4 separate regions of the Homo sapiens genome follow, and regions 2, 3 and 4 are each linked to region 1. The links come from fine-mapping of genetic effects on gene expression. A gene starts in region 1. Each other region holds a variant in brackets. All regions are shown on one strand. Distances are between the middles of the regions.

Evidence for each region.
Region 2: its variant is fine-mapped to the expression of AFDN in whole blood (INTERVAL, PIP above 0.99). The same link has a PIP of 0.9 or more in blood mononuclear cells and monocytes.
Region 3: its variant is fine-mapped to the expression of AFDN in lung (TOPMed, PIP above 0.99).
Region 4: its variant is fine-mapped to the expression of AFDN in whole blood (TOPMed, PIP above 0.99).

Annotation. Positions count from the first base shown.
Region 1 is chr6:167,823,181-167,829,532 of GRCh38, forward strand. It overlaps AFDN (afadin, adherens junction formation factor), which reads left to right and starts at 3,731. Exons shown (of 34, transcript NM_001386888.1): 1 at 3,731-4,057. The coding sequence starts at 3,953. It overlaps AFDN-DT (AFDN divergent transcript), which reads right to left and starts at 3,616. Exons shown (of 2, transcript NR_027906.1): 1 at 2,223-3,616; 2 at 710-1,626. RefSeq lists silencers at 2,700-2,769, 3,684-3,883 and enhancers at 3,354-3,423, 3,454-3,533.
Region 2 is chr6:167,703,119-167,709,470 of GRCh38, forward strand. No RefSeq gene overlaps it. Among named protein-coding and RNA genes, the nearest start is that of LINC02487, 10 kb to the left of the region's middle. RefSeq lists enhancers at 165-706, 4,504-5,225, 5,226-5,946. The variant G/A (reference allele first, on the strand shown) is at 3,325.
Region 3 is chr6:168,047,050-168,053,401 of GRCh38, forward strand. FRMD1 (FERM domain containing 1) reads right to left here. Exons shown (of 11, transcript NM_024919.6): 11 at 6,046-6,352. Among named protein-coding and RNA genes, the nearest start is that of FRMD1, 29 kb to the right of the region's middle. RefSeq lists an enhancer at 1,368-1,867. The variant A/G (reference allele first, on the strand shown) is at 3,772.
Region 4 is chr6:167,909,694-167,914,693 of GRCh38, forward strand. AFDN (afadin, adherens junction formation factor) reads left to right here. Exons shown (of 34, transcript NM_001386888.1): 14 at 1,408-1,469; 15 at 1,591-1,796; 16 at 3,710-3,730; 17 at 4,475-4,620; 18 at 4,951-5,000. Among named protein-coding and RNA genes, the nearest start is that of HGC6.3, 68 kb to the right of the region's middle. The variant C/T (reference allele first, on the strand shown) is at 2,251.

The sequences.
Region 1 (6,352 bases):
ATTTTCTAGAGGCTGTGAAAATTGGGGCAGGAAAAGGTTTATTTCATGTGGCTGGTCTCAGAACCTGGTTTTCATAATATTTCGAAAAAAATTTTAAAGTAAGTGCAAAGTTTAATCAGAAATTCAAAAATATTATTACTTTCTGTCCTCATATTTATTCCTATTATGTGATACTTCTTTTTTTAAGAGACAGTCTTGCTCTGTTGTCCTCTATTACCTGGTACTTTTAGGTTTTACGTAGATTTTGGTTTTAGATAGGAGATACTTAAAAATATTAGTATACCAGTGCTGATTGAAATAGAAGCTGTAAAACTTTTTGAACAGTGCAACTAACAATAATATACGTTTAAAAGGAAAACTAAAATTATAAAGTAGAAACTTGAATTTTCAAAAACCGACTTATAGATTAAAAAGGTCTTTTTCAACCTCGCCCAGTGCAGGTTTGTTTAGCTTCAGTCCAGTCCTTTATCTTGCATTTCAGTCTCACCATGTATAAAATGGAATTAATAACAGAAAAGCCCATTCTTTTATTTATTTATTTATTTTGAGACAGAGTCTTGCTCTGTCGCCCAGGCTGGAGTGCAGTGGCGCGGTCTCAGCTCACTGCAACCTCCGCCTCCCGGGTTCACGTCATTCTCCTGCCTCAGCCTCCTGAGTAGCTGGAACTACAGGCACCCACAACCATGCCCGGCTAATTTTTTTTTTTTTTGTATTTTTAGTAGAGACGGGGTTTCACCGTGTTAGCCAGGATGGTCTTGATCTCCTGACCTCGTGATCTGCCCGCCTTGGCCTCCCAAAATGCTGGGATTACAGGTGTGAGCCACTGCGCCCGGCCCTATTTTGTTTTTTACAGCATTTCTTGGATATCATTTAAGTACAATTTTTAGATGTACCAGAATCCAGTGGTGCAATGAGAATAGAAGATGGTAGCATGTTTACCTTTTATTGTTCTAGGTGGTTATCAAAATTAACATATGGCTCAGAATATCATCCTGGAGTCTTGACCGATGACAGCGAAATTATTTGTCAGCCTGGAAATTTTCATGTCCTAAACATATACCAGTTATGGGAGTGTTCATGATTTAAGAATCATAGGTATTCTATGAATTTTTGGCTGCTCTTAAACATTTGTCAATAAACTAATGTTGGTTGGGACCTACAATAAAGTGTAGTTTAGATATTGATATACCACTCATACATAATACAAATGGGGACTTTTAATGACAGTCAGAAAAACGAGAATGATTCACATTAATTTCGAGCCTTCTATGTGTCCTGCATCACCCAGTAGGTATTTCACATATGCTATATGTTTTTTATTACAAAAATAACACTGCAGAGAGCCCATAACTGTTTTCCAGGAATCCTGAATTTTCTCTTTAGTGATGCTACACATACTTACTTTGGACATCAGCAATCTAACTGCCGGCTTTGCAAACTCATTCTTCAAGAGGCAAGTCATTCTTGGTAACAGCGTCCTCAGGAATGAAGCTCCTGCAGTTGAGGTTCAGTGAACGCTGCGTCAGGGATCTGCGCAGCACGTGTGGAACCCAATGAGAGTCCTTGCTGTGCAGGCACCGGGATGCTCACATAGTAAAAACTCGAGTCCATCGGGAAGCCCAGGAACTGAAAGGCATAAAGAAACCGAGTGCTAGAACACGAAGATGACATTTAGACACAGATGCTTTTCTGCAAGTCACCACACTTTAATTTTAAGAAAGGAGACTAGCGATCTATTGAATAATTCATTCCCTCATGGCACTGGTTCAACACCCCAGGCTCCTCTGCTGAGAAGCCTCCTTATGTAGCTGTACTGGACAAGTGCGGTAGAAAAGACAGAACCCAGTGGGGATGACAGAATTCTTTAATTGTCTGCAAAAGAGGAAATCCAGTTGGTGGAGAGAAAAATTATTTCCACATTGGAAAAAAAAGTAATGACAAAAATAAAAAGGCTTTGTCAAATATAGTTCACTCTTCTCATTACTTGCCTTAGTGTTTCAAAGATAAACGCTTTTTGTTACAACACATCACAGATAACGCAACTTCGCCTGACTGAACCCGGCGTGGGGAGACTGCAGAGATGGCGCTCTGCAGCCAAAACAAAGGGTGGGGGAGGGGAGGGGCAATTACAAAAAAGACACCTTATGAAAAAAAATCCCTACAATTCACAAAGCTTGCTACTGAAATTAATTTCAGGTTTCCACGTCCACGGGGACACGTACAGGATTTAAAATGACGATCACGTGGCATCTCTCAGGGCCAAATGGGGCGCATCAAAGCTTCCCCTCGACGTTTATTAACTCTGCAGTCCGTTCTCTACGTCTGCGAAGAATTGGCAGATAACGATGTGTCTGAGAGAAGAGGCGTTTTCTAAGGAGACACACAAAGGGAGTGGGACCCTCCAACCTCACTCTGTGAGAGGAACACCGCACAGCAGTGTGGGGGCTCGAACACCCCAAGAGCGGCAGAGCGCGGTTCAGAAAACATGACCCTTGAAATGCACACAAAGCCTAACAACGTGTCCTCCGCGGAAGAAAACAGCTTGAAAAGGTCGGCTTTGAAGTGACCCAGCGGAAAGGAATCACCCTGGAAGAAACACGCAGCAGCCCCGGGGCAATGCGCGGGCAGGAGGAGCAGCGAGCGCGGGGAGCGCAGGGCCCTTCGGAGAGGGCGCTCCACCGGCCCTGCGCTCCGTACCTGTGCCGCCACGCCCACCGGTCCCCTGCTGAGCCTAGCACCGCCCATTTAGACCCAGCACCACCCGTCCGGACCGAACCTAGCACCGCCCGTCCGGACCCAGCAGCGCCCATTTGGATACTGCACCGCCCGTCCAGACCCAGAACCGCCCGTCCGGACCCAGTACCACCCATCGGACCCAGCGCCGCCCATTTAGACCCAGCACCGCCAGTCCGAACCGAACCTAGCACCGCCCATGGGACCCATCGCCCGTTCGGACCCAGCACCGCCCGTCCAGATCCAGCACTGCACCCCCATTTGGATCCAGCACCGCCCGTCCAGACCCGGACCCGCCAGTCCGGACCGAACCCAGCACCGCCCATCGGATCCGGCGCCGCCCATTTAGACCTAGCACCACCCATCCGAACCGAACCTAGCACCGCCCATCGGACCCACCGCCCGTCTGGACCCAGCACCGCCCGTCTGGAACCAGCACCGCCCGTCCACAGATCCATCACCACCCATTTGGACCCAGCACCGCCCGTCCCCGCCCGTCCGGACCGAACGCAGCACCGCCCATCGGACCCAGCAGCGCCCATTTAGACCTAGCACCGCCCGTCCGAACCGAACATAGCACCGCCCATCGGACCCATCACCGCCCGTCCAGATCCAGCACCGCCCATTTGGATCCAGCACCGCCCGTCCGGACTCTGCACCGCGCGTCCGGACCCAACACAGCACCACCCATCGGACCCAGCACTGCCCATTTAGATCCAGCAGCGCGCGTCCGAACCGAACCTAGCACCGCTGGTCGGGAAGGAACCCGGTACCGCCGGTTGGGACCCACCACCGCCAGTCCAGACGGAACCCTAGCACCGCGCGGGGCCCGCCCTCCGACACCTCCCTCCCTGGCGGCCGCGGCAGCAGCACCTAGTGGAGCGGCCCGGAGGTGCGGCGGCGCCGCGCGGGGCGGCGGCGCGCACGGCGGGCGGCGGCGCGCACGGCGGCGGGCGGGGCGCGGGCGGGTGCGGGCGGCGGGCGGCGGGCGCCGGGCGCACACCGGCCGGCGGGGCTGAGGCGGCGCGGCGCGGCGCGGACTGAGCCCCAGGCGGAGGCCAAGTCGGAGGACGCGGCGCGGCCGCGGAGGCGGAGGCAGCCGCGGAGGCGGAGGCGGCCGGCGGGGGGTGGCGAGGGGCGCCGGGCCCCCGCGGACCTGTCGTCCTCGGCCCGTCCTCCGGCCCCGGCCCCGCGCGGCTGAGGAGGCGCGGCCAGGACCATGTCGGCGGGCGGCCGTGACGAGGAGCGGCGGAAGCTGGCCGACATCATCCACCACTGGAACGCCAACCGGCTGGACCTGTTCGAGATCAGCCAGCCGACCGAGGTGAGCACCGCCGGGCGCGGGGCCTGCGCGACCCCCGCCCGCTGCGCCGCGCCCCGCCCCTCCCCCCCGCCGCCGCCCGCCAGCCGCGGACCCGCCCTCCTTTCCCCCTCCCCCCTCCGCCCCTTCTCTCCCCTCCCCCTCCCCCAGGCCCACCGCGGGCCCCGGCGTCCCCCGCAGCCCCCGTCCCCCTGCCGCGGTGTATCCCGGGGTCGCGCGGGCCGAGCGGGGGCTGGCGGGGCGCGGCAGTCACCTGTTCCCCTCTCCGGCCGCTCACCTGGTGGCTCACCTGGGCCGCCGCCCCCACCCCCGCGAGCGCGGCGCGGCCCCGGCCTCATCCCCGGCGGCGCGGGGGGCGCGGCGGCGCGCGGGGCCGGCGCCCTCCACCTGCAGCCCGGTTGTGGCTCGCGGCGCCCCTTCGCCGTGGCCGGGATGGAGCCTGTGACGCGCGCTGTGCTTCGGGTTCATAAACTTGCAGGCTGCCAGCTGGGAGGGGAAAGTCAGTATCACAAAGTTCGGGAGGTGCGGGCTGCCTGATGGCACAGGCCCGGAGTCGGACGCCTCCGAGGAAAGGCGCGCCTTCTCCACCTTCGGGGCCGCGAGGAAGGGCCCTCTGCGGCGGCCTCTGCCCGGAGGGAGGCGCCGGCCCCAGGCTGGCTCCCTGAGAGGAGGAGGAAATCACGCTCGCTCCTGGCCTGGTAACAATGGGGGTTGTTTATAGCAAAGCTGCTGAAAGCGTTCCGAGCAGCTTTTAAAAAAATGTTTGAGTCCAAGTCCACTAGGAAGGGCTCCGTGGAGAGGGGAGGGAGGTGAAGGGTCGGGGAGCAACCCTGTAAATCGCTCCGCAAGGGTCGGTTCCGCGCTCTGTTCATTCGGTGGCTGCACAGACTTTACCAGCATAAAAAAATTTCACTCAATATTTGTGCCCGTTTAGGAAATCATTTTAATAGCGTCTATTTTTGATTTGTTGTAATAGGTAATTTATAGTTAATACTTGCTATAAAATACTAGCTCCTAGGCAACAAAACATGTTTGGCAGATTTGAACATTCTTACGAAATGTAATCCTTTTATCATTAAATTCCACTTTATGTTTTTGAGAGAATTTGACTATTGCTTCTCTGATTTCTTGAGTTTTTGCCAGTCATGGGAAGGACTCTATTTCTTCTGTTTTCATCTGTACCTGTGACTGCACTTGACGTGGGTAGCTAGCCATTTGTCTTAATACTGAGTTGAATACTGACACACGCCATTAGGCTCAGGTTGTCAATTTGAGCATAGATGTTATGTTAAGTTACTCCTGATTCATTCATCTTCTGTAATGATTTTATGAGTTAGGTTCTAGTAAGGGAGTTAGTACTATGTACTTAAGTGTTCGTTCATAGACTAGTGTATCTTTAGAAAGGTGACATGATAATTTAGTTTCAGGATTATGTTTTCTTTTAGAATAATGAATTCATTTTTCTTTTTATCACAAGGTAAAAAAAGTTGACCATAAAACATTTTCTTGGTGTGTAGCTTTTTTTTTTTGTTTGAATGGATTTTTTTTTTTTTTGAGAGATTTCTCAAGTCTGGTGGAAAGGAATCTTTTTTCGGTTTAATAAAGAGAATTCAGCTTTTTGGGATTTTGAATTGAGTTAGCATTAAAAAAATCTCAAATCAGAAACATTATAGTTCATTGATTTAATTAAATTCTATTTTAAGCACTCAATTGAAACTTTTTATTTCTTAGTGATATGACTAGTTTTTAAAATTGGCCTGTCATTTGGAAAGCTGTTTTTTCAGTTATACTGTAGGTGAAAGTTTGCTTTGTACATACACTGAAGCAAAACAAGAATTGAAGGACTTGGAAAAAAAGATGATATATTTCATTTCCTAATTTTTCTCCCTACTTATATCTGAACATTTCCATTTTTAGAAATTATTCTTCAGAATTGTATTAGAAGCCTTTCATAATGAAATGAATGGTTTTTAAGAATGTCCATATATTGGTTTTTTAGCTTTTTTACTATATAGTGGCTGGCTCACATTTCTATTTTGTTTTCTCGAGAACTTTCCTGTACTATTAAATTTATTCTGGTCCTAGTTAAGCTTTGCATTTAACATATTGTATCTTTTATTATGATGTAGGTAAACTTAATATGAGTAATTCTCTCAGCCAGTATTTCAAGGCCAACAGTTTCAATTTGCTTTGTCTAAGCTCGTGTGAATTTTTTTTTTTAACCATCTAATGATTATTTTTACTCTATTTGGCCATCACAAGTCCAATTTTTTAGTTTTCTGCAAGAACAGAAGCATT
Region 2 (6,352 bases), 120 kb before region 1:
CCACAGGACCTGCCTGCAGCTGCTTTACAATTAACTTGTTTTTCTAATTAGTAGGAGGAGTACACTCTAAAATAACAATAAAATGTATAGTATAGCACGCATCATCATTATCAAGTAGAATGTGCTATGCACAACTGTACGAGCTATACGTTTATACAACTGGTAACGCAGTAGGTTTGCCTATACCAGCATCACCGCAAACGCGTGAGAAATGCATTGTGCAATGACATCACAAGGCAGTAGAAGTCTTCCAGCTCCACGATCATCTCAGAGGCCCACCGTTGTCTGTGCCATCCATCATGGACTGAAACGTTGCTAAGCGACTCACGACTACACAAAGAATAAGAGCCTCACTGCTTCCTTCTGTTGCCTGCTGGACCCCCCATTGAGTGTGTGGTCAAGGGCGCACTCCACGGTGAGTATGGGTCATCACTGCACAGTGTGTGTGTGGCCATGGACCCACTCCACGGTGTGTGTGTAACCATGGAGCCCTCCACAGGGCGTATGTGGCCAGTGAGGAAGGCAGGCATGGTTCAGCTCCTGAAGGCCTGGGCTTAGCTCTCAAGGAACCGGGCTTGGACACATTTGGCCTGTGGAGGGCTGACCCTCAGCTCCTGCCTCACACTGCCCCCATGCTCCACTGTCGGCAGCCTTTGAAGACATTTCAGGCCCCATGTCTGCCAATCTCCCAGGGCCATGTCCCAGCCACGCCAGCCTCCTCTGTTTCTGAGCAAACCAGGCTCCTCCAGCCTCAGGCCCTGAGTGTTCCACGCTGTTGGTAGCTGCCCCCACCCATGCGATTCCTCCCTTCTAGGATGGTCTCATGCAGGTGTCTCTGTCTCCCACACAGCCCAAATGCCCAGGGAGGGCTGAGCCTCTCTCAGTGGAGGGAGCCAGCCTCTGGAAGGCAGCCCCAGCTCCCGGCTCGGACGCTGACTCAGCCCTGGGAGGGGAGGGGGTTCCAGGGAAACTCCTCCCAGTTCGGGAGAGACACTTCCCAGCTCCGGAGAGACTCCTCCCAGCTCCGGAGAGACTCCTCCCAGTTCCGGAGAGACTCCTCCCAGCTCCAGAGAGACACCTCCCAGTTCCGGAGAGACTCCTCCCAGCTCCGGAGAGACTCCTCCCAGTTCCGGAGAGACTCCTCCCAGCTCCGGAGAGACTCCTCAAAGCTCTGGAGAGACTCCTCCCAGTTCTGGAGAGACACCTCCCAGTTCCGGAGCAACTCCTCCCAGTTCTGGAGAGACTCCTCCCAGTTCCGGAGAGACTCCTCCCAGTTCCGGAGAGACTCCTCCCAGTTCCGGAGAGACTCCTCCCAGCTCCGGAGAGACTCCTCCCAGTTCCGGAGAGACTCCTCCCAGTTCTGGAGAGACTCCTCCTCATTCCAGAGAGACTCCTCCCAGCTCCGGAGAGACTCCTCCCAGCTCCAGAGAGACTCCTCCCAGCTCCGGAGAGACACCTCCCAGTTCCAGAGAGACTCCTCCCAGCTCCAGGAACGTGTCTGAACGTGGTTGGCTTGTTTTCCTCTGGCCACTGCCAGGACCCTGGGCGAAGGTTTGGCCAGCAGTGGAAGACATAGCACAGTGGCCCCAGCAGACTCCACGGTCAGCACAGAGCTCCTGCCCGGGGTCAGCCTGAGGCCCACCCTCCTCTGGCAGCTGTCGCTGGACCTGCTGCTTCAGACCACTGTACTCCAAGCTCCTGGTTTTACTGCCAAATGTGCAGCACCAAGACAGCTTGAAATACTCTTTCACTGGTCTTGATGAGAATTCACCCTTCTTGAAGTGAATTCCTTCTCTTTCTTTTCACGTGGTAGGTCCAATGTCTCCTCCTCAGAGTGGCCTTCTCTGAATCCTCTTTATTTCTGTCCCTCACAGGGAAAGCCCTGTTTATTTTGTGTCTCCACCACCCATACAGAGAAGAAAGGTCTTGAGAGGGGTGTTTGGTAGGGCCTCTCTGACCACAGCATCCTCAGAGCCCCTGAACTAGAGCTGGCCCAGGAAGGACCAAACCAGAAATCTACTTTTTCTTCTTTGTTATTTCTTTATTTAATATTAATTGCAAACAAATTTGTAATTACAAGCATGCTAAAAAATCTTTTATTAAGAGGCACATACACACTTTGCAGCTTCCAGGTGTCTGAGTTTATTGGTTACATTTTTCAAAAGGCCATCACACGACCCTGGAGAGAAGCCCCCAGCTGCCGAGCAGCAGTAGGAGGAGGGCGAGGCCACAGGACGGCACGCGGGAGGCGCCAGCCGCAGAGAACACGCACAAGCCTGACGGCTGGAGCAGCACCACGTGCATTTCCTTAAAGAACGGAGGTGCAGATCCGGGCAGGGCGAGCTCAGGGTTGGTTAGTTCAGGAGCTCTGCGCGTCTCAGGCAGCCAGGACCCTGGGTCGAGAGAGGCTGCGATGGTCCCACCGTCACATTCAGATCTGACCATGGCCAGTGGAAGAGGAAGAGATGTGTCCTCTTGGGCTGTTTTCTCAGGGACTAGCAAACTTTGCTCGGGCCCTGTCCACCCACGTTCCCACAAATATCAATGCCAGAATTGGGCCACACAAGCCTCCCGTGCTGGTGCCTGCGGCTGGCGGAGACAGACACGCACCACAGCAGGTGAGCACCATGCGACTGGAGTTAAAATGAAAACACCTTTCTTCTAGAAGCATGAAGGAAACATTTCAAATGATGACGCTTTGTGCTGCTGATGGTGAGTGAAACAGAACTCTCCATCCATGGGATGTGGGCACACGACCCAGCCCCAGCTTCCTAGAAGGCAGCGGGATGGGTACAGGACGGGGACGCTGCCACCTGCCTTTGGCCCAGGACTCCCATCTCTAAGAATACATCTTAAGGAAAGAAGTAAAGTGCATATGAGCAAAAATATTATGTACTGATATGTTCATTGCATTAATATTTTAAAAATTCAAATATCCAAAATTGGAATGCTTATACAAATTTTGAACTATACAAATAACCCAATATTTACATGCTATTACACTGATATTTAAGAAGAGTGTTCATTAAAATGAAAAACAAACTTTTACCATTAAATGAAAAAAATTACATACCGTATAATGTCTACACTTGAAAAAGGAGTATATAGAAAAATAAAGGCACCCCTGCCAAGTGTTAATAATAGTTTTCTCTGCAGGGTAGGCTTCCGGGTGATTTTCTGTATTTACACATTTTTAGCCCTCTAAATATTCTATAGTGAGGGCGTCTGTAGTTGCTATTGTTTCCATTATCAGTTATCTATTGCCACAGTGGTAACCACAAGAAACAACCACAAACCTCTGTGCACGTAACCACCACCACTGGC[G/A]CCTGCTCACCGTCGAGGTGGTGTTGGGGCAGGGCTGCTCTCTGAGCTGGGGCGGAGGAGAATGAATGCATCTGCTCAGCCGGCTCGGCTGGGTGGCTTCACCTAGCTTTGCCGAGCCCCCTCCCACGCCAGCTGGGCCCCGCAGAGACTCTCAGGGCCCCAGGCAGATGCTCGTGACAGTACAGGGCTTCGTGGGAACTGCAAGAGCTCACGGCGTCTTAGGCCTCGGCTGGGCAAGGCCCCCTTCCTACCGGCCAAAGCAAGTCAGAGGCTGCGCGGCCTCCAAGGGTGGGAAAGGAGCCCCTGTTGATGAGAGGAGCTGCGGTTCGTTGCAGCGACGGGACAGCAGGATGAGGACCTACAGCCAGCTTTACTTCAGTCCACGATTGAGACCCGGCTGCTGTTCTCAACAGCTGTTCCCACCATAGCCTGAAAACCCAGATATTTGCTGCCTCAGTTTCCATGGCCAGTATGGTAGTCACGTGGCCAGCTCTGGCCAATGAGACCAAGGGTAAGTCCAGAGGGGTGAGATTCTGGGAATCACTCTTCCTTCATGATTTAAAAAAACAACAACAAAGGAAGAAAAGAGGGAGAGGAAGAAGCTCACAAGACACCCCCAGCCCCACCACAGAAGCCTCCCTGCACCCGGCCTTCCCATGTGGCCCCGTGAGGGAGGCCATAAGGCCCAGATGCAGGTGTGAACACACACCTGAAGAAGCCAGGAGAACAGCCCCGATGTGTCTCCTCCAGGGTTTCAGGGAAGAAATCAATGCCCACAGTTGAAGCCACGGTGAGCATGCCTCAGTGACTGGATTCCCGGTGCCTCTCCAGACATAGCACAGCCCGCATGTCCATCCAGGAAAGGCGTAACTAAAGAAGAAAGCATTTAAGCAAGAAACAGATAAGTCAAAAGTCTTACAAAAATGAGAAGGCTCTAAATGATTACAGCATAACACAGAAGCTGCTTGGCAGTTTAGAATTTCACTCCCAGACAAAACTATAGTCAACTGAAGGGTATGACCTGGCTGACATGTTGTCCTGACTATTTCATGCTCTAAGTTTGCAGAAAGTGACTGTACATCACCCAGACATCTTACACAGCCCCTGGTCTGTGGAGTTTCCCGTGAAGACACAGGTGGCCTGGCATCAGGGACACACCAAGAAAGTCGGCAGCAGGGAAGGGGGCTTCGTGTCTTTCTCTCACAGGAAAAAAGGAGCAAAACAACTGTCTGAAACTGAAATGAACACGGTGCCTTAAGGTCACTTTATTGTCAAGCAGAAAATGGTCTCAAGAATTGCAAAGGGAAAGGAAGGTAGGATTTGCTGAGCGGAGTATCACATCAAGAAACCCAGTCATCCGGGGAAAGTCGGCACTTCCCGAATTCCCGCGTAATCAGTCACTGAAGAGACGGCATGATGAGCGAACTCTGGTCTATCCGAGGCCTGGGAAGCTGGCTCAGAAGCAGCAGCTGGAGAAACACACGTATGACAGCTGTGGCATTTTGCTAAATATGTTGTCACGATGCCCCATGGCTACAAGGAAAGAGCTTAGCATGTGATGGGGAGGGTGGAAGACACCCCACAGTGCTCAGGGGGGAGGCTGAGCCTCTGCAGCCAGGTAGACCTCTTGACGGTGCAGGGCCAAGCCTCAGCTGCTTACGTCCAGACAAAGCAGGGGGAGGGTGCCTGTGTTGGCCTTGGCCAAATGAGCATGTTTTATCTGAAACAGAATCCATAGGGTGGAGTTGCTTGACACTGGCCTCCTTCCTGAATACCCTCCAGGCGAGAGGCTGCATCTGGGCTGGTCCAGGGCCGCTGGACACCCACAGTGAGCCCAGCGAGGCAGCAGGAGCGCCAGTAGGACTCAGCGTCGATCTCCCGGATTCAGAGATGACCAAGAATCGTGAAACATCTACGTATTCACCAAGGACGCAAACAAGGCTGCAGCCATCTCAAGGAAGCTCCTGGAAATCTTCCTGCAGCCTAGAAAAATGTTACCTGAAGCACTGCAGGAAGATCCTGGGGCCAAGACAGGATTCCCGCTCCACTGAGACCCCAGCCCTGCAGGCTCCCATCCACACCCGCCCTAGGCTGCCCTGGACCCATGGCGGGCCCAGGCACACCCCACAGCCGCAGGCACCCCACAGCACGGCGCCGCATCCAGGGAGTGCCTTCCTAGGCCAACATCCTTGGGTGACACCTGTTGAATTTCGTTTTGATGATTCTTTCCTTTCAGGGTAATAACTTCTACACCTTTTTCTTGGCGTGTTTCTGTAGCCCAGGTCCAGGAATAGATTAAGCACGAGAGCGTGTGGCACCTGCTCAGCAGCCTGTGTATAGCTTATGCTTTCTCTACTGTCCCACAGGAACCGTGTGCACCTCTGCAGGATGCAGACCCACAGGGGTGGGGACAGCAGGAAGAGCAAGAGAGGCACAGAAGGGAAGGCCAGTGGAGGCCCTCCAAGCCGTCCCAAGGCAGTCTCCATTGTCGCATTCAGGCTGGGAAGGGAGGGACAGTGGACAAGGAAGGGGTCCTGGGAATAGCAGCCAACAGGGGAGGAAGGAAAGGATGCAAAACTTCCAACAGAGCTGCTCAGTAGGGGAAAGACGTCTTTCCTCACCCATCCTAGGTTCACGGCTGAAGCTTCTATCACAACAGACAGATGGACAAAGGAAAGTGCACATTTTACTTCATCTAAGTTTTATGTGACACAAGAGCCTTCATAAGGAAATGCCAACCCGAAGAAACAGGCGAGCCTGAGTGTGTTTCACAGGGGGTTTGGTGAAAATGGGGCGGTGGAAGGAAAGAACAGAAGGAAGCAGCATGATCTACTGGCAGCAAAGCGGGGGGACCTGGCAGGCCTGTGTGGCCCTTCAGCTCCCGAGCTAAGGACACTCCACTCCACATGATGGGGTGGCCACTTCTCACAGGCGGGGCTCCTAGACCAGCTTCCCGGGAGGGCCAGAGAGTCCTGCCTGACTTTTATGACCCAAGTCAGGAGAGGAGGAAGGAAGGTGAGTGTGGCTT
Region 3 (6,352 bases), 220 kb after region 1:
ATACATAGATTATATAATCCTAACAGAGCATGCCTTTTTTAAAAAAAAAAAAAGAATCAATATAATGATGTAACTATAATATAATGGAGAAATAGGCCAGATGCGGTGGCTCACACCTGTAATTTCAGCACTGTGGGAGGCCGAGGCGGGCGGATCACTTGAGGTCAGGAGTTTGAGACCAGCCTGGCCCACATGGTGAAACCCCGTCTCTTCTAAAAACACAAAAATTAGCTGAGCATGGTGGCAGCTGTAATCCCAGCTACTCAGGTGGCTGAGGCACGAGAATCACTTGAACCTGGGAGACTGAGGTTGCAGTGAGCCGAGATCGCATCACTGCACTCCAGCCTGGGCGACAGAGCGAGACTCAGTCTCAAATAAATAAATAATAAAAATAAAAATATAATGGAGAAATAAAAAGTTTTTTTCTGTGTATATACACATAAGTATATTTCAATTCGTAAAACTTTCAAAACAACTACATCTGAACACACAGCGAAGTAAATGAGTTTCGGTATAAGAAGGAAGACAATATTCAATTTATGTATATTCGACAATTTAAAAATAAGGGCCAAGTGACTGTATCTGTGTGTGTGTGTGCACGTACATGCATGTAAAATCTCCAGGAATGTGGCCGCTACAAAAAGCAGACAGACACACAGACATGGAATTGTCACAAGTGTCCCATTTGTGACTCACATGTCACCAGCAGTATAGCAATGTGATATAATTTTGTACATGGTGAAAACCTCTTGGTAATGTTACAAAGTTTCAGCTTCTCTTGGTTTACACAACTGTTGCATTCCTGACACATAATGTACATTAAAACTGCAGAAATAATCCTTCCTGATTTTATGGAGAGCAGTGTGAGGTTTCAGGCCTGGATCACCAAATGCAGGATTTCCACCTGTGAATGTCTGACGGGGGCTAAAGCCACGTGGCCCCCGGGACAGTATTTGCTGGGTGGGAGTGTCCTGTGCCTTATGGGGACCTGGCGTCCTTGGTGCCTGTCTGCTCAATGTCACTTGTGTCCCCTCATCATTGTGATGACTTGAATGACCCCACAGGTTCTGAGATGCTCCCTCAGTGCCCAAAATAAAATCAAACTTCTCTTTAGGGTTGGCCCTTAGGCAGGCAGATGCCCCTGGCTCAGGAAGCCCCTCACCGGCTTGCTGAGGTGCGAAGTTCCTTTAGTAGGACAGAGACACCAACGCACAAATGATGGACTCAGGAGGTGGCAGCTCTGGTGAGATGGAAGCTTCTCTGTGGAGCCCGCACTGAACAGCAGTGCCAAGCAACAACTGCCGCCAGGCCCTGCCGTCCTCCTTCTGACCTTGAAGGGCCCGAGCTGCTGCCATAGCGTGACCGAAGGGACAGCCTGGCTGAGCCGCGTGACACTCGACAAGCCTTCTTTGTGTGTTTGATGAAGTTCCTCTCTGAGCAAGGCCGGCGTTGTGATAACCAAGCTGCCTTTGTAGAGGATGCGTGGACGCCTCGCCCCACAGCTGCGTGGGGCCCACAGTGGTGCCCCGAGACGGGCACCGTGTGAAAATGGCAGAGCTTCCCTCTGGGGAAGTGTTGGACCGGCTCTGGCCAGCCTCTACGCGGGATGGCAGAGGCGCGAGTGACTCAGGAACCTGCCAGTCACAGCCTAGAGCAAGGGCGTCTACAGAGACTGGGAGTTGGGGCAGTGGGCGTGGGGGGCGCTTGGGCCCCAGGCACCGGACCCCACTGCCTGCCACCCTCGACGCCCCCACGCTGCAGACTGGAACCCTCTGCCCCATCACAGGGCGTGCAGCTGAGTCCTCGCTTCCCAGGTTTTCGTCTGCCTCTCACTCCCAACTCCTCATTTCCTAGAAGGAAGCCTGGGCCCAGTCTTCACCCTGGTCCACTTGGCCACACCCAGAGTGCCAGGGTTTCAGAGCAAACCAGCCCAGTCTCCAGGGTGTGGGGCTGCAGGCACTCACCCCACCGCTGGCCACCACCAGTGATTTCAGTGGCCCATCACCGTGGTGCTGACACGCTGCCCCTAAGAAGGGAGAGGGAGGGACGGACCCAGGAAACATACAGAAAAAAAACCCAAAACTAGTCAGTGACTAAAACTCAAAGACGTCCCATCAATTAACAGCTCTGCTCTGGGGTTACTATCTTCATGTTCATTAGCTTCTTCCTCTTGGCTCAGGGCCTCTGAAGGTGTTTAGGATCAACCCATTTGAAAAGCAAGGACGCTGAGGCTGTGGAAGTCCACGTACTTACTGACTCGCAGCGCCTGTGAGTGGGCGGGAAGGAGCGTCTGCCCCTCAGTCGTGGTCCGGCTCCTTCTCTCACAGACGTGGACCTTTGGAGGGCAGTCCCAGCGCCACGGAGAAATGCATCTCCAGAAACACTCGTGGCTTCCTCAAACTGAGCACAACCAGACCTCCCCAGCGCTGACCTACGGCACAATTGTTCATGCACGAGAGCCGCCTTATGGGGTGAGTGCGTGACTCTGGTGCGAGGTTTATGTTCCCAGGGCTGACATGTCTGGGAGCTTCACAGCTGGACGAGGCATATTTGGAGGGGCGCCTTGAACCTGGACAGCACCCCCTCCTTGCCTCCCTCAGGCCGTTTGGCCACAGAACCTGTGACATGGGCAGGCTCAGGAGAGGAGAGGAGGAAGGGAAGGAGCCCAGGCCCCGAGGAGGGAAGATTGCCGGGGGCCAGGGTGGGGGTGGGGTGGGGTGGGGGCCCAGGGCCCAGGGCTGGGGCAGCTCTGGGTGCCAAATGCGGTTTCGTCCAGAGGACACTGCAAGGCTGGAATGAAACACCCTGTCCTCTTCAGCTTGTAGCGGGTCAGAGGCCGCTGGTTTTGAAGAGATTTGCCAGTGATCTGTGGGAGGAAACACTCAGCAGAGGTTTAGGTGGCACGTGGAGACTGTGCGGGGAATACAGCCCAAATGGGGAGGACAGAAGACACCACAGCCACCCAGGGTGTGAGAGCTGCGACAGGCGCCTGTTAGAGCGGAACCACAGGGGCCCGGCCCCATCTCGGGGTCCGGGGTGGCTTCCCTGCGGGGGCGGCCTCTGTGCAGAGGCCTGAAGGGTCCACAGTGGCAAAGGGGGAATGACAAAGTGTCTGCCTGTGCCGGACCGAGTGATCTGTACTATAATTACCCTGTGAGGGGCGCACGCTGCCGTCCTAGAGCGTCACAGACACCAGCCCCCGGGCCTGTTGGTACTCGCCGGAGGTCCCTGCGTGCCCAGAGTCCCGCCCTGGCCATCGTTTAGTGTGAGGCAGGAGGGGGCCAGATATGGGGGGGACGCCTGGCTCCCCCAGATCTCTCTTGCCTGCTCTTTCCTCCGCAGGCTGCCTGTGCCCCTCCCCCGTAGCCAGGAACAGGCCCTGGGGAGTGGTGGGAGGCCGTGCAGTGAGGCTTGCGGCCCTGGATGCTCCCTCAGGACTGTCTGGGACCAGGCTCGTCTCACAATCCGAATTAACTGCAGACCTCACTTCGAGAACAGCCTGGCCCAGCCCTGATACTCGGGGAAAGAGCAGCGGTCGGAGGAGGCAGGAGGAGCGCACGGAGGGCAAGCCGGGGGCCCATGTGTGGCTGGGGCAGCCGTGGCCTCCTCAGCACAGTGTGAGCCCAGCAGCCTTGCCGTGGCCAAGGCCCTGGGCCTGGGAACTTGTAATCCAGTCGCTGACTTTGCTTAGTTAGCAGAAATGGAAGACACCTCATTTGTGGAGACCGAGGTGGTGGAATGTTGACCCTGGGGGTGTTGCTGTGGGAGGCC[A/G]GTGAGCTGTTAGCCCAGTGGGCAGGACCTGGGTGACCGACGCCCTGGGGGTCTCATAACTCCCTGGACCTTCTCCTTTCTTGGTGGAGCTTGGCCAAAACCCACGGATATTTTACATCTGTTTCCCTGAAGTGCTAGGGACGTTCTGTAGTTTCAGCCATGCTCCTCGGGCAAGCCCCGGGATGGGGTGGGGGGGGCCAGAACAATGTGGGGTGGGCGTGGCCGGACGCCAGCTGCCCCTCAGCAGGGGCTTCAGCTCCATCACAGCCATGTGGACTGTGGCTCAGCCTGGGTGGACAAGGAGGTGTATACAGTTAGCACAGCCAGAGCAAGCCAGCCCTGCCCACTGAGGTGCACAGAGCACCAATCCGCTGGCCCTCCCTCCCTCTTTCACCTGTTCTGTGCCCATTTATTGGCTGCCTCCTGTACCGGGGTCTTGCTTTGGCACCGAGGAAACTGCAGTCAAGGCCGGAGGCTCCTGCCTTGAAGATCCCAAGACCGGGATGGAGACTGATGAGCCGGATGTGTCCCAGCGTGTAATGCAGGGTGGGCTGAGTGCGCCCCCCGACGTCTGTGTGGGAATCCTCACCAGCAAGGCCATGGTGTTAGGAGGGGGTGCCTGTGGGAGCCGGTGAGGTTGTGAGGATGGAGGCTCACGGGTGGGATTAGTGCCTTTGTAAGGGGGGCCCTGGGAGCTCGCAAGCCCCTTCCGCCCTGAGAAGACGTAGCGGCCAGGGAGGGGGCCTGGACCAGGAATGGAACTGGCCGGCACCTCGATCCTGGACTTCCAGCCTCCAGAATCATGAGGAGTGGGCAGAGTGAGGCCACACGGCCTATGAAGATCTGTTGTAGTGACCAGAGGGAAGACACAGTGCAGTGGACACGCCGGGGCTGGTGTGTGTCCTGCAGCCTCTCTGGGAGCCCAGGGCACCTGCTCCCAGGAATCACATGTGAGAAGCAAAACACAAGGACAGGCTGCGGGGAGGCGGCCCCGGACCCCCACTGGATGCCTCACTTCACACACCTGCCACCGAGGGGGACAGTGCCGGCCTCCCAGACCTGCACCCCAGCCCACAGGTGGGCACTCCACCCATGCACTGTCAGGGCTGCCAAAGCCTCATGCCCTCCCACCACCTTCTGCTGGGCAGCCCCTTCCTCAGAGAACAAAGAGCATTTTGGTTTTTTTTTTGAGACAGGGTCTTGCTGCATCGCCCAGGCTGCAGTGCAGTGGCATGATCTCAGCTCACTGCAGCCTTGACCTCCTGGGCTCAAGTGATTCTCCCACCTCAGCCTCCCGAGTAGCTGGGACCACAGGCGCCACCATGCCCGGCTAATTTTATTTCTATATTTTTTGTAGAGATGGGGTTTTGCCAGGTTGCCCAGGCTGGTCTCAAACTCCTGGTCTCAAGTGATCCGCTCACCTTGGCCTCCCAAAGTGTTGAGATTACAGGTGTGAAGCACCGTGCCTGGCCATAAAGAGCATCCCGGAGGCTCCTGAGGCGCGTCCTCCTCCCAGCCCACCTCCTGCAGAGGCCCCCATTGGAGGCCGGCCTGTTCCCACTGTTACGTGTTCCCATGTCCGCTCAGGAGGGAGCCTGGCCCGCACCCCACAGGGCACACTCCTGCATCTGGCTCTGAGGACATGCTTCTTCCTCTTCTCCCACTGCGCCAGGCCCTGCCGCCGCCCCAACAGCGTGGATGTCCAGGGCTGTGGGCGGACAATGGCCCTGATGTCCAAGGACAGACAACAGAGGGTGCGGCGAACAGGTCCCCACTTGGTGACGGTGACGTCCAGTTCCTGCTGCGTGCACTGGTTTGTGACAGCAGCAGTGGCTGAATGGAGAGAACCACACCCCTGCCAGCGGGAGGCCTGGCTGGTCACCTGAGCACAGATGCCAGGGCAGAGCCAGGAGGGGACTCAGGATGAACACTGCCACCCTGGGGCGGCTGGAGAACCAGGCATGGGCCGGCGGCGAGCCGGGAGGGAGCCCCAGCCTGTGCCCAGTGGCCCGGGGGCCTCATCCGTAGCCAGGGGATGTGAGCAGGGAATGGCAGCCGCTGTGTGACCCAAGGTTCTGAGATCAGAGGAGTCCTCACCCTGGGCCCCGTTTTGAGGCCTGAAACTTCCATGGTTAGATGGTGATGGGGAGCCCTCCTTCAGGGCAAAAGATAAGATTACAAATTCTAAAGTATGAAAATAAATCTAAATACAGAAACATTAAAAAACCACCACATCACAAAGTTTAAAAAGCTGAAAAACACAGTAACACAATATTTGGTGACGGTTTTATTGGTGAGCTGCCTGTGATTAATAAACAATTAACCCGCGCCATTTTCCCCACTGCGTGTTCACCTCTTCACGCGCCTTTGTAGAATACCAGCTTTCTCCCGGCAGGGCTGCCCCGGATTTGTTTTCTAACCTTGGCACCTGGAAGGCAGCCTCCCCATCACAGCTCGCCGCCGTGAGAACGGTCATGGGCCCGGCTGCAGGACCGGCATTGCCTACCACGTCCAGCCTCCCACTGCCAGCTCTGTTTCTCTTCCAGTCCCCACACCTCCCAGGTTGGGAGTACATGTCCGC
Region 4 (5,000 bases), 86 kb after region 1:
TGAGTAAGTATTAGTCTCAGTTTAAGTCAATATTTAACTCAGTAGAGATGTTCATCACAGTTTAAGTCATTAATATCCCCACAATTTCATTTTTCATTAAGTTTGCGGAAGGCAAAACACATGTTCCCTGGCTCTTACTGTCAATTTAAATTTTCTTATTTTTTCAGAGACATTTTTGAGAATTCTTCCTGGTTATCTCTGTTAAAGTTGAACTAAAATGATAAAGACATTGAAATGTTAAGGAAGCTAATCACTTGACTATGTGTTTCGCTGGTTTTTGGTAAATATTGTATATAAAATACAGTGGGTAGCGAACTTAGAGTAATAAGTAAATGGCTTGAAGTTCTAATCACATGGCTAAGTGAAAGAATAAGCTGAGCATTATTCATTGAGAAAAGCATAAATCCACAAAGATAAGGAAATCTAAACTGGATTTGTAATTTATTATCTTACACATTTAAAGAGTCTGTGCCTAGCAATGGCTTTCAAAATGCTTTTGAACTGTGGTTATAACACAAGATTATATCTTACATTGTGCTCTGGTGAACACACATACAAATGTGTATTCAACTGAAAGAGTAGTTTCACAAAACAGCCTTCTGCCCTGCCAATGGGTGATGACACACTGTTTGAAGAATATTTTTATAGAGATAGAAATGAACCTAACTTTTGAATTAATTTGATCTGAATACCTGGAAATAGATAAACATCAGCACAATGCTAGTTTTTATAAATGTTCCAAATTATAGTTTCTTTGTATTTATAATTTTTGACAGTTCCTTATTTGTGTAGTGTCAGGCTAAATGGTGGAAGGGACCTGGAATTTATGTGACCGTAAGAAGAAATGTGAGTGAGTAGAACATCTCTTTATAAGGCATGCGTCACTGTAAGCATTGGAAAATGATGATAGTAATGGCTGAAGGAGACTTGCCGTGGTCAGCTTGTCTAACCCTGTGTCAGCAGAGAAAGACAAAGTCCAGGTCTTAGGAAGCTTTTCCCTTTCAGTATAAGAACTCCGTTTCAAGCTTGGCATGGTTAGTTTTTCTTTGTGTCACTTAGTACTTTGTTTTCAGTGTTACCTGAGCCATAGCTGTAGCAGATGCAAGACAGACCGATCCCTGTACTAGACATGAAGTGTTCATTAATAATCCAGAATCACGTCAGATCTGCTGTCATGGCGGCGGCATATACTTCAAGGAACTAACCTTCTTAGAGGAGTCGTGATAAGATCACTCCCAATGCATTATTTGATTAGGCTACATCTGAAAACAAGGGATATTTTATTATTTTACGTTGGAAAGATTAGTATATAGATTTAAAAAGTAGTTGCAGAAATCTACACAGGTTGTCAGTAATATTGTTAGCCATGTGACCTTATTTTAAGTGATGTCAGCTTTCTTCTTTTAGAACACAGGATGCTTCTGGGCCTGAGCTGATACTACCTGCAAGCATTGAATTCAGGGAAAGTTGTGAGTAATTTCAGATTTCATTGTCAATGAATTATTTCTTGATCCATTTTACTCCATCTGATTTTCACATTCGTTTTTATTCTTTTTTCCTTTTTTCTTTGTTTTTGAAATCTTTCCACAGCTGAAGATTCATTTTTGTCTGCCATTATAAATTATACTAATAGCTCTACAGTCCACTTTAAGTTGTCCCCTACATATGTATTATATATGGCATGCCGGTATGTATTGTCCAACCAGTACAGACCTGACATCAGCCCTACAGAGCGCACACATAAAGTCATTGCAGTCGTCAACAAGATGGTGAGCATGATGGAGGGTGTCATCCAGGTACGTTCCAGCCGGCCAGCCATGCTCCTCCAGTGATTGTGGTTGTAATTGCTAAGCCAGTGAATTCAGCTTCTTTAAGGCTTCTCATTTGGTTACAAGATTTTTTTCTAAAATAAAAGTTATGTAAATATTGTAGGAAAATGTATAACTTTAAAGAGTTGAAAGGAAATGCAAGCTTTTTTCTATTTTGTTTTCCCTGTAAAACTTCAGCATAAGTGAAGTTAACTTGTAGTAATAGTTGTGAGAAAGTGCTGAGACTGTTGTGGGCTTTTGTAGAATTTTTTCTGTAAATAATTTGTTGAGATGAAGTTCATATAATATTAACCATTTTGAAGTGAACAATTCAGTCGCATTTGGTGCATTCACAGTGTTGTGCAGCCACCACCCCTGTCGGTTCCAAAACGTCTCCATCACCTCAGAGCGATACCCCTCAAGTAGTTCCTGGGGTTTTTCT[C/T]TTCCCCCGTTCCCTGGTAACGCCTTCTTAGACTTTTTAAAAATGGTTCTCAAAAGTCACTTGCTCCTGTGTAATGAGCCTAGACGTTGGTAGTAATTGGGCTTTTTGATAGCACATGTGTAGGTGTAATGGACATTGTAACATACTTCTCACTTAAAATGAAATTCTGTCATAAACCTGTTTTCAAAATTTCAGAAGATAAAGGTATTTTGTTGGTAGAATGGTTTGACTCCTTTACGTACTTTCTGTCCCGATCTACAGTTGATAAAATTTTCATAGCAGTTTTTCATCTACAGATGATTTGAAGATTTAATCTTTAAAGTTCTTAAAAGTAAATGTACAGATTTTTTCAGTTTTTCTGAATCACTTGTCAATGTTGTTATTTAACTTAATAAAACTCTAGTTATATAATGTTAATAACATAGATAGATTGGTTGCTTTTCTCCTGGCAGGATCATTTGAGGGAAACTAAGATCTTTTAGTTCCTTCAGAATTGTTTTCAAAGGCCAGAATTTTTCAAGAAATGTTTCTTTTATATTTGAGTGATTAGCATGAGTTTGATAGGGTTATGCTTCTTTTACCCAAGTTAGGAAATAGGTAAAAAAGAAAGTCATTTTATTTGGATACCGTTTTGTTACTTTCATGTCATTATTTTATAAACAAACATGGATTTCCTTTTCAGTTGTCATTCAAAGCCATTGTCTGTCTTCTATCATGTTTGGACTTACTAAGCCTGTTTCGAGTTGTGAGACACCTATCATAAAACTACCCTTGATAGCCTTTTCCTTATTGATGTGAACTAGTCAGTGAAATCACCATTATCAAACAAGTCTTTTAAACTTCAGATTTAGGGTTAGTATCCAGTGGGGGGAATCTTAAAGTAGTGGAAAAGAACTGTGGTAGTGAATAATTTAAATTCTATTTTCAAAAAACAAAGAATTTGCTCCCTTTAGTATAGGTGTAAGTTATTTATACACTTTTAAATTCTCATCTTCTCAGCTTTTATTTTGATTGTTTCTTGGTCTTTCCTGTCTCTTCCATTCCTATTAATTAATCTAGAGGGATGGACTTTCACCTTATTAGGTACCTTTTAAGTAAGTAGTAAGCACACCATATCACTGAAAGATGTTCGTTCACAAGTCCTTCCATTGTAAATCTTTTAAAGAGATCAGTGTGTTCATGTGTGTTTATGGTAACATCATATTTATTGATAAACTCTAAAAATACAGTTAGTTATTGTGCCAGTGGTAAGAACATAAAACTAATCCTTTAGGTCGTATACTTCTAAAGGTGCTTCAGAACCATAAATGAAAATGTTATTTTGGGAATAACATAACTAAATGTCGTACCTTCATGTCGTACCTTCATATTAGTGTTTTGATTTTTTTAAACTATCATGATTGTTTACAAGTTTCTTTCTCTCGTTCTGCTTGATTTCCCCTCGTCTGTTTTTCTCCAGGAAGTAGACCAGGTTGACCAGGTAGGACATCTGCTGGGAGCTGATCCTAGCTGTGTTGCTTAGCCAAGTTTCTCATGCTGCTCCCATGTCAAATAAGTAATACAACAGCTGGACTGAACAGCTCATAACACTCATTCAGCAACTGAGACATGCAGTACTAAAACCCTTTTTGACTGTGCAACCTTTATCGGCATTTCATAATTTCTGCTTAATGCACTTCAGTGTGGATATGAAATGACAAAAGTTCTGTTTCTTCTCTTTATTATTTATCCTTGGTTCCTATTCTTTGGATCTCATCTGAGGTTGCCTGGCCTGCACATGTGGTCGGGAGAGGATGTGATAGATCAGTACTTGATACTGAGTTGCATGGTGTCCAAGCCAGTGACTACAAGTATCAGGGTGGCTGTGGGTAACCATGGATACATGTATGTATACTGCACAGACTACCAGATAATGCACGGTCTACAATTTGGTGTTATATTATTTGATATCTCCATTTCTCCGCTGATTCCATCTATAAATTGTAGCTAACTGAATCCATATGTCTATGTGCATGAATCCTAAGAAATAGTTGCAGTGGTTATTTACTTCCCATTGCTATGTATGCACCCAAATTATTTTGCAAATATCTGGTATCTGTGGTAAATACCTTGGTGAAATGGGAAGGTACTGGTCTATCTTCAGCAGCTTTTCAAGAGCATTCCTTTATATTTTTATTACTTTTGTTTATTCTCTGTTGCTTATGGAAGTGTGTTCTGTCTACAGAAACAGAAGAATATTGCAGGGGCACTTGCCTTCTGGATGGCAAATGCATCTGAACTTCTCAACTTCATTAAGCAAGACCGAGACCTTAGTCGGATCACACTGGATGCTCAAGATGTTTTAGCACATTTGGTTCAAATGGCATTTAAGTAAGGAACACATTTTTGAAGGCGGCACTACTCTAAATAATTAAGTCATTTGTTTTCTTATTCAGTTTTCCAAACTAATTTTAAGATTTATATTTACCTTGATTGAAGGTGAATATAAAGAAGCATACATTTTTGCAAAATGTATTAACTACCTATAGTTATATCCTTAATATAGTTATACTGAATTCAGTGAGCTATGTTTCAAGATTCCACATTTTTTTTTTAATGGAAAATATTTTTTAAGAGTCCAGATTGTTTCCCATGTGATAACATGTCTGACAATAGCTGTCTGTCATGCTAAGATTACTTAAATTGTCTATGTATTTTCAGATACTTGGTTCACTGTCTTCAATCAGAACTTAATAATTACATGCCAGCCT